Regions from separate parts of the Homo sapiens genome. Here region 2 is linked to region 1. The links come from fine-mapping of genetic effects on gene expression. A gene starts in region 1. The other region holds a variant in brackets. All regions are shown on one strand. Distances are from middle to middle.

What was found.
Region 2: its variant is fine-mapped to the expression of SYNE1 in fibroblasts (GTEx, PIP 0.95).

Annotation. Positions count from the first base shown.
Region 1 is chr6:152,635,959-152,638,864 of GRCh38, reverse strand. It overlaps SYNE1 (spectrin repeat containing nuclear envelope protein 1), which reads left to right and starts at 1,503. Exons shown (of 146, transcript NM_182961.4): 1 at 1,503-1,676; 2 at 2,060-2,227.
Region 2 is chr6:152,489,845-152,492,750 of GRCh38, reverse strand. All of the region lies in intron 11 of SYNE1 (spectrin repeat containing nuclear envelope protein 1), which reads left to right. Among named protein-coding and RNA genes, the nearest start is that of SYNE1-AS2, 89 kb to the right of the region's middle. RefSeq lists an enhancer at 1,003-2,202. The variant G/A (reference allele first, on the strand shown) is at 1,647.

The sequences.
Region 1 (2,906 bases):
GGTGCAGTGGCTCACACCTGTAATCCCAGCACTTTGGGAGGCCGAGCTGGATGGGTCACCTGAGGTCGGAAGTTTGAGACCAGCCTGACCAACATGAAGGAACCCTGTCTCTACTAAAAATACAAAATTAGCCAGGTGTGGTGACGCATCCCTGTAATCTCAGCTACTCAGGAGGCTGAGGCAGGATAATTGCTTGAACCTGGGAGGCGGAGGTTGCAGTGAGCCGAGATTGCACCATTGCACCCCAGCCTGGGGAACAAGAGCGAAACTCCATCTCAAACAAACAAACAAACAAAAAGAATGGCAAAGTTGGCACAATAACTTTCTACCCATCTTCAAAAGCCGGCAGGGTGGATTGATTCTATGAAGGTAGGGATTGAGAGGGTGAGCTGAGCCATTCTGATCTGTTTCTTCTGAGTGGCAAGCCTGGAAATCTGGACCCCATTTTGTGGCCACTGGGCACAGAGGGCTGACCTGGAATAATTATGCTCTGGTGGTTGTCTCCACAAGGGGCTCTGGGGGTGCCCCAGGATTGTTGCCCTCAGGCAGAGGCAGGGCATACATTGAGAGTGATCCCAAACACTCCTCCTCCAGGCCCAACTTTTGGAGGTAGCAAGTTCTGCAAATAGAGATCCATTGTTTGGTTTCTCTCTCTAAAAAAAAACAAAAGTCAGCACAAAGAAGAGGAACACATCAGATTGGTTTACCAGATTTGTTTCAGATGTTATTATTTTGACACGATCCAGAAGAAGGAGAATTTGAAGAAAATGGAAAGCTAGGCAGTGGGAATGTTGGCAGCAGGTAAGGGAAAGGCAGGCAGCAAAGAGAAACTTCATCTACTTTATAAACTGCTCCTTCCTTTCAGCAAATTTAGAGGATAAATGACTGTTTTGTTCAGATTGGAGATTCAAGGGGGGGATTATTACTTTTAAGATTATTGCAACATGGCTTCGATTATTTTAGCTGCAATCATCCTGTTGGACTTGGACTTCACTGTTGGTGAAGAGAGACTGTGTTTGACTTTGCCTGGATACCATAAAACCACAACAAAATAAATTCTCCTGAATGCTACCAGGCAACACCAAGATCTCTTACACCACGAGAAGGACTTGTGGCCAAAGATACAAATGGCTCCGCAATGTACAGGGTGCATACAGTGCACCTGAAGAACCTAAAAGTGGTTTTTAGAATCATCATAATAAACAGTCAAGAATTAAAGATGTCAAGCGCTTTCTCAAGAAGTCTAAACTTTATACATAACATTAAAAAAGATCTATAAAGCCTGACCAGTCTCCCTCAAATTAAGTTATTTGCTACTGACTTGGCAGCCAAAACGATTTAGGATCTTTCGGAAGTTGATGAAAAAGGAGCCAGCGGGTTTTGCTCTTTGCTCTGCATCACGCCCTTCCTGGGACCATCAGGGAACCTCCCAGCCTTTCAGGATAGGTTCCGCTCAGAAAGGTCACCCGGGCAGTGGAAACCGTGGGCAAAAGTTAGCTGGCAGGACAGCGCAGCTCCTCCAGGCAGCGGAGGCAGCGCGTCCCGGCTCTCAGGGACATTTCCTTCCCACCTCGACCCCCGGGAGGTGGTCCCGGTATAAAGGCTCGCTGAGCGGGTGGGTCACAGCACAGCTTTGCAGCTGCGGAGAAACGCCCAAGGCCGTGCATCTCCAGGAGGTAGGGAAGCCTGCGAGCCTCCGGGTCCCCGCCCCCAGCTCTTCCAGGCACCGGCGCATCCCGGAGCCGGGCGCGGGGCGCGGGGCACGGAGCCGGGGAGGGGGTGTGGCGGGCCAGGGCGGTGCAGGGACCCTGCCCAGAGGCTGAACCGGCCTGGGCGACCTTCCTTCCCGACAGGAGCAGTAGATGCGTGGGGGAGGGCGAAGGGGGAGGCCTCACCCCCCAGCGAGCAGCCGGGAGGAGGAACCGGTCGCGGAGGGCGGGGAGCGCGGCTGAGCAGCCCGGCGCGGGAGTGAGTGTGGGCGAGCCAGCCAGGGTGAGCGCGGGCGCCGGGCCGCGGCCGCCGGCCGCAGCGGGCTGAGATTGTTGTCCTCTGTCACCAGGGCGGCTGGGCTCCCGCAGTCCTGCAGACCGCGCCCGATCCCGGCGACAGGGCGGGCGGACAGCCGCGCATCCCCGGGGTCCCGCCGAGCCTGGGCGCAGAGAGCCGGGAGGAAGCGTTCGCTCGCTTCGCCTTGCTGCTGGGAAACTGAACGAGGCCGAGAGAGAAGGTAAAAGGAAAGACAGAGACTGGGAGACAGGGAGAGACAGAGACAGGGAGAGGAGAGAGAGGTGCAAGACGAACACATTGCAGACAAATTGTCAGCAAGTTTGTGCCTGCACGCTGGGGCTCTGCGTGCTTGATGGGAGGGGGTGGTGGCAGTGATGTGTGTACGTGTGCGATACTCATAGATAAGGAGACTAGGAGGTTGGGGAGCCTCTTTGCATCTCGTACGTAGATGTCCCTATTAATATCCCCCTCTCTGAGTTGTCATTTCCGCTTGTGGCACATCTCCTGGGCTCCAATGGTGCAGAAGCAAAAGGCAGCCAGCCTCTTATTGTGATGGTCGGTACTGTTGCTACTATCAGATGGGAGAGGTAGGGCGTTGAACAGATTCTAGGAGCCTCCCTTCCTCCACCCCCTGACTATTTTAGGAAGGGCTGGGGGAGGGAAATGGCTTGAAGGCTGCGCGGAGGCCCTGGCGCGTCAGACTCCAGCGGCGCTGTCATGGTGCAGTTGCTTCCCGGCAGAGCCTGCACTAGAGGGCAAGAGAACTTTCGTCTCCTCTTTATAAAGATACGTTTCACATAGAGAGATCTTGCATTGCTGGCGGAGGAGTTCTGGGAAATGGTGGTGCACAGGCGGCCAGGTGCATCCCAACGGGCAGGCATCCGTGCAAAACGAAGCAG
Region 2 (2,906 bases), 150 kb after region 1:
TCTAAGAGTTACCTAAAGCATCTGTGATGGTCCAGGAGGCTTCCGAGGTGATTGGGCTGTGTCAGTCTTCAGCCGCTAAGCTGAGAAGATCTGGGAAGGAGTCAGTCAGAGAGCCTTGGGCCAGAGTTCCAGGGGCTCTGGGAGTGGCTTCCAGGCAAGTTGGACAGTCCTATTTCCAGTGGGTTCCTGCACAAGTGGGACATGGCTTAGGAGGAATCCCAGGCTGTGGTCATTCCTTGGCCCAGTGGCCAGATTTCCAGCACTTGAAGCAAGATCCTGGGGGAGAAGGTCCTGGAGGAATGCCTGGCCACTGTGGTTTAGGTATTTTGAAGTTCTTGTGTGCTGGAGATGTGGCTGGGGTTTCTCTCACAGTGGAGGCAAGTAATTGCAACTCAGAAATAAGTTGCCGCTTGGCTGACTCTTCTCTATTATTGTACACCTTGAAGGCGAGATTGATTAAGTCTTGTTGTGGGGTTTGAGGGCCAGAATCTAATTTTTGGAGCTTTTTCTAATGTTGGGAGTGGGTTGAGTAGTAAAATGCATATTGAGAATAGGACGGCCTTCTGGCCCCTCTGGGTCTAGGGCGGCAAAGCATCTAAGGGTTGTTGCCAAACAGGCCATGAACTGGGCTGGGCTTTTATACTTGACGAAAAAGAGCCTGAACACTAACTGATTTGAGAGAGGTCAGATAAAGAAAAAGGAGGGTTAACCTTGACTCTGCCTTGAGCTGCAGCCACCTCTGTAAGAGGAAATCGTTGGGCAGGTTGGGGAGGGCTAGTCGTGGAACAAAACTATAAGCCAGACAGGGTGGGAGGAGGGGGAGGTGATAGAAGGATTATAGGGCTGGGGAGTGGAGGCTGAGGAAGAATTAGGACCTGGCTCAGCCTGGTGAGGAGCAGCCTGGTGAGGAGGGGAGAGGTCAGATGGGTCCATAGAAAAGGAGGATTCAAAGGACTCAGAGCTTGGGGTGGAGACTGAAGGAACAGACAGGAGAGAAAGAAGATTTGTGATGAGTCGCACTGGGAGCAGAGACTAGGGAGGGACTGATGTGTAAAAGAATGCCTGGATGTCAGGCATCTCAGACCATTTGCACATTTTTCAAGAAAAATCATCCAGGTCTTGTAAGATGGAGAAATCAAAAGTGCTGTTTTCTGGCCATTTAGAACCATTGTTGAGTTTGTATTGGGGCCAAGCAGTGTTGCAGAAGAAAATAAGGCAGTAAGGTTTTAGGTCAGGCGTGAGATGAAGAGGTTTTAAGTTCTTGAGAACACAGGCTAAGGGAGAAGAAGGGGGAATGGAGGGTGGAAGCTTGCCCATAGTGAAGGAGGTAAGTTTAAAGAGAAAGGTAGAGACACAGAGAAGGGGGTGGTGAGCAGCCCTGGGCTGTAATGTGGGTGAGCAGCCAAAGCAGGCGTCTCCACAATTGATTTGCCACCAAGGGAATGTGGGTGAATGACCAAGGCAGGCGTCCCCACAGTGATCAGACACTAGTGGAATGTGGGTGAATAATCAGGCAGGCATCCCCACAGTGATCAGACACTAGTGGAATGTGGGTGAATAATCAGGCAGGCATCCCCACAGTGATCAGACACTAGTGGAATGTGGGTGAATAATCAGGCAGGCATCCCCACAGTGATCAGACACCA[G/A]TGGAATGTGGGTGAATGATCAGGGCAGGCATCCACACGGTGATTAAACACCAAGGGAAGACTGTCTTCCCAAGTCCGTGACCCACGCTGGAGTTTTGTGTCCACAGATAAAATGTGTCTCCTTTGTCTCTATTAGAGAGGAAAAAGAACTGGAATTGGAAGGACAGGGAGATTGAAAGGTAGCGAGAGAAGCTGGAGAAGAGAGTGAAAAGACCGCTTGCCCGATTTGAAATTGGTAAGATGTTCCTTGGGCTGGCCTGAGGACCCAAGGTCATAGGTGGATCTTCTCATGGAGTGAGGGTGAGGACAGGGGACTGGTCTCCTGAAGGAATCCCCCTGTCCCAGATCTTCAGCACCAAATGTCACGTGTGTCCGTGTGAAGAGCCCAACAAACAGGCTTTGTGTGAGCAATAAAGCTTTTTAATCACCCAAGTGCAGGCAGACTGAGTCCGAAAAAGGTAGATAGGGGTGGGGCAGTTTTATAGGATTTGGGAGGGTAGTGGAAAATTACAGTCAAAGGGGGTTTTTCTCTTGCAGACAGAGGCAGGGGTTACAAGGTGCTGAATGGGGAGCTTCCGAGATTCATTGTCCAGAGAAAGAATTTCACAAGATCAATTGATCAGTTAGGATGGGGCAGGAACAAATCACAATGGTGGAATGTCATCGGTTAAGGCAGGAACCAGCCATTTTCACTTATTTTGTGGTTCTTCAGTTGCCTCAGGCCATCTGGATATATACGTGCAGACTTGGGCTCAGAGGCCTGACAAGGATTTTGTGTAGTTGTTCCTAGATATTCACAAGTGATTGGTTCCAGGACCCCCAAGATAGCAAAATTTATGATGCTCAGGTTCCTGATATAAAATAGTGTAGTATTTGCATATAACCTACACATATCCTCCCATATACTTTAATCTGTAGATTATGTATAATACCTAACACAAAGTAAATGCTATTTAAATAGCTGTTATACTGTGTTGTATTTTGTTTGTATTATCTTTATTGCTGTATTGTTATTTTTATTGTTTATTTTCTGAATATTTTCAATCTGCTATTGATTGAATCTAAGAAAACAGAGGGCTGACTTTATATAATGCATTTGGGTGAATATTAGCGCTGAGGTTGTCACAGGATCATAGAGAAGTGTTCTCAATATATGATTCCTTCACCAGCAGCATCAGATTCACCTGGGAACTTAGACATACGGATTTTTGGCTCTACCCCACATCCACTCAGCCAGAAACTCTGGGGGTGGTGCCCAGC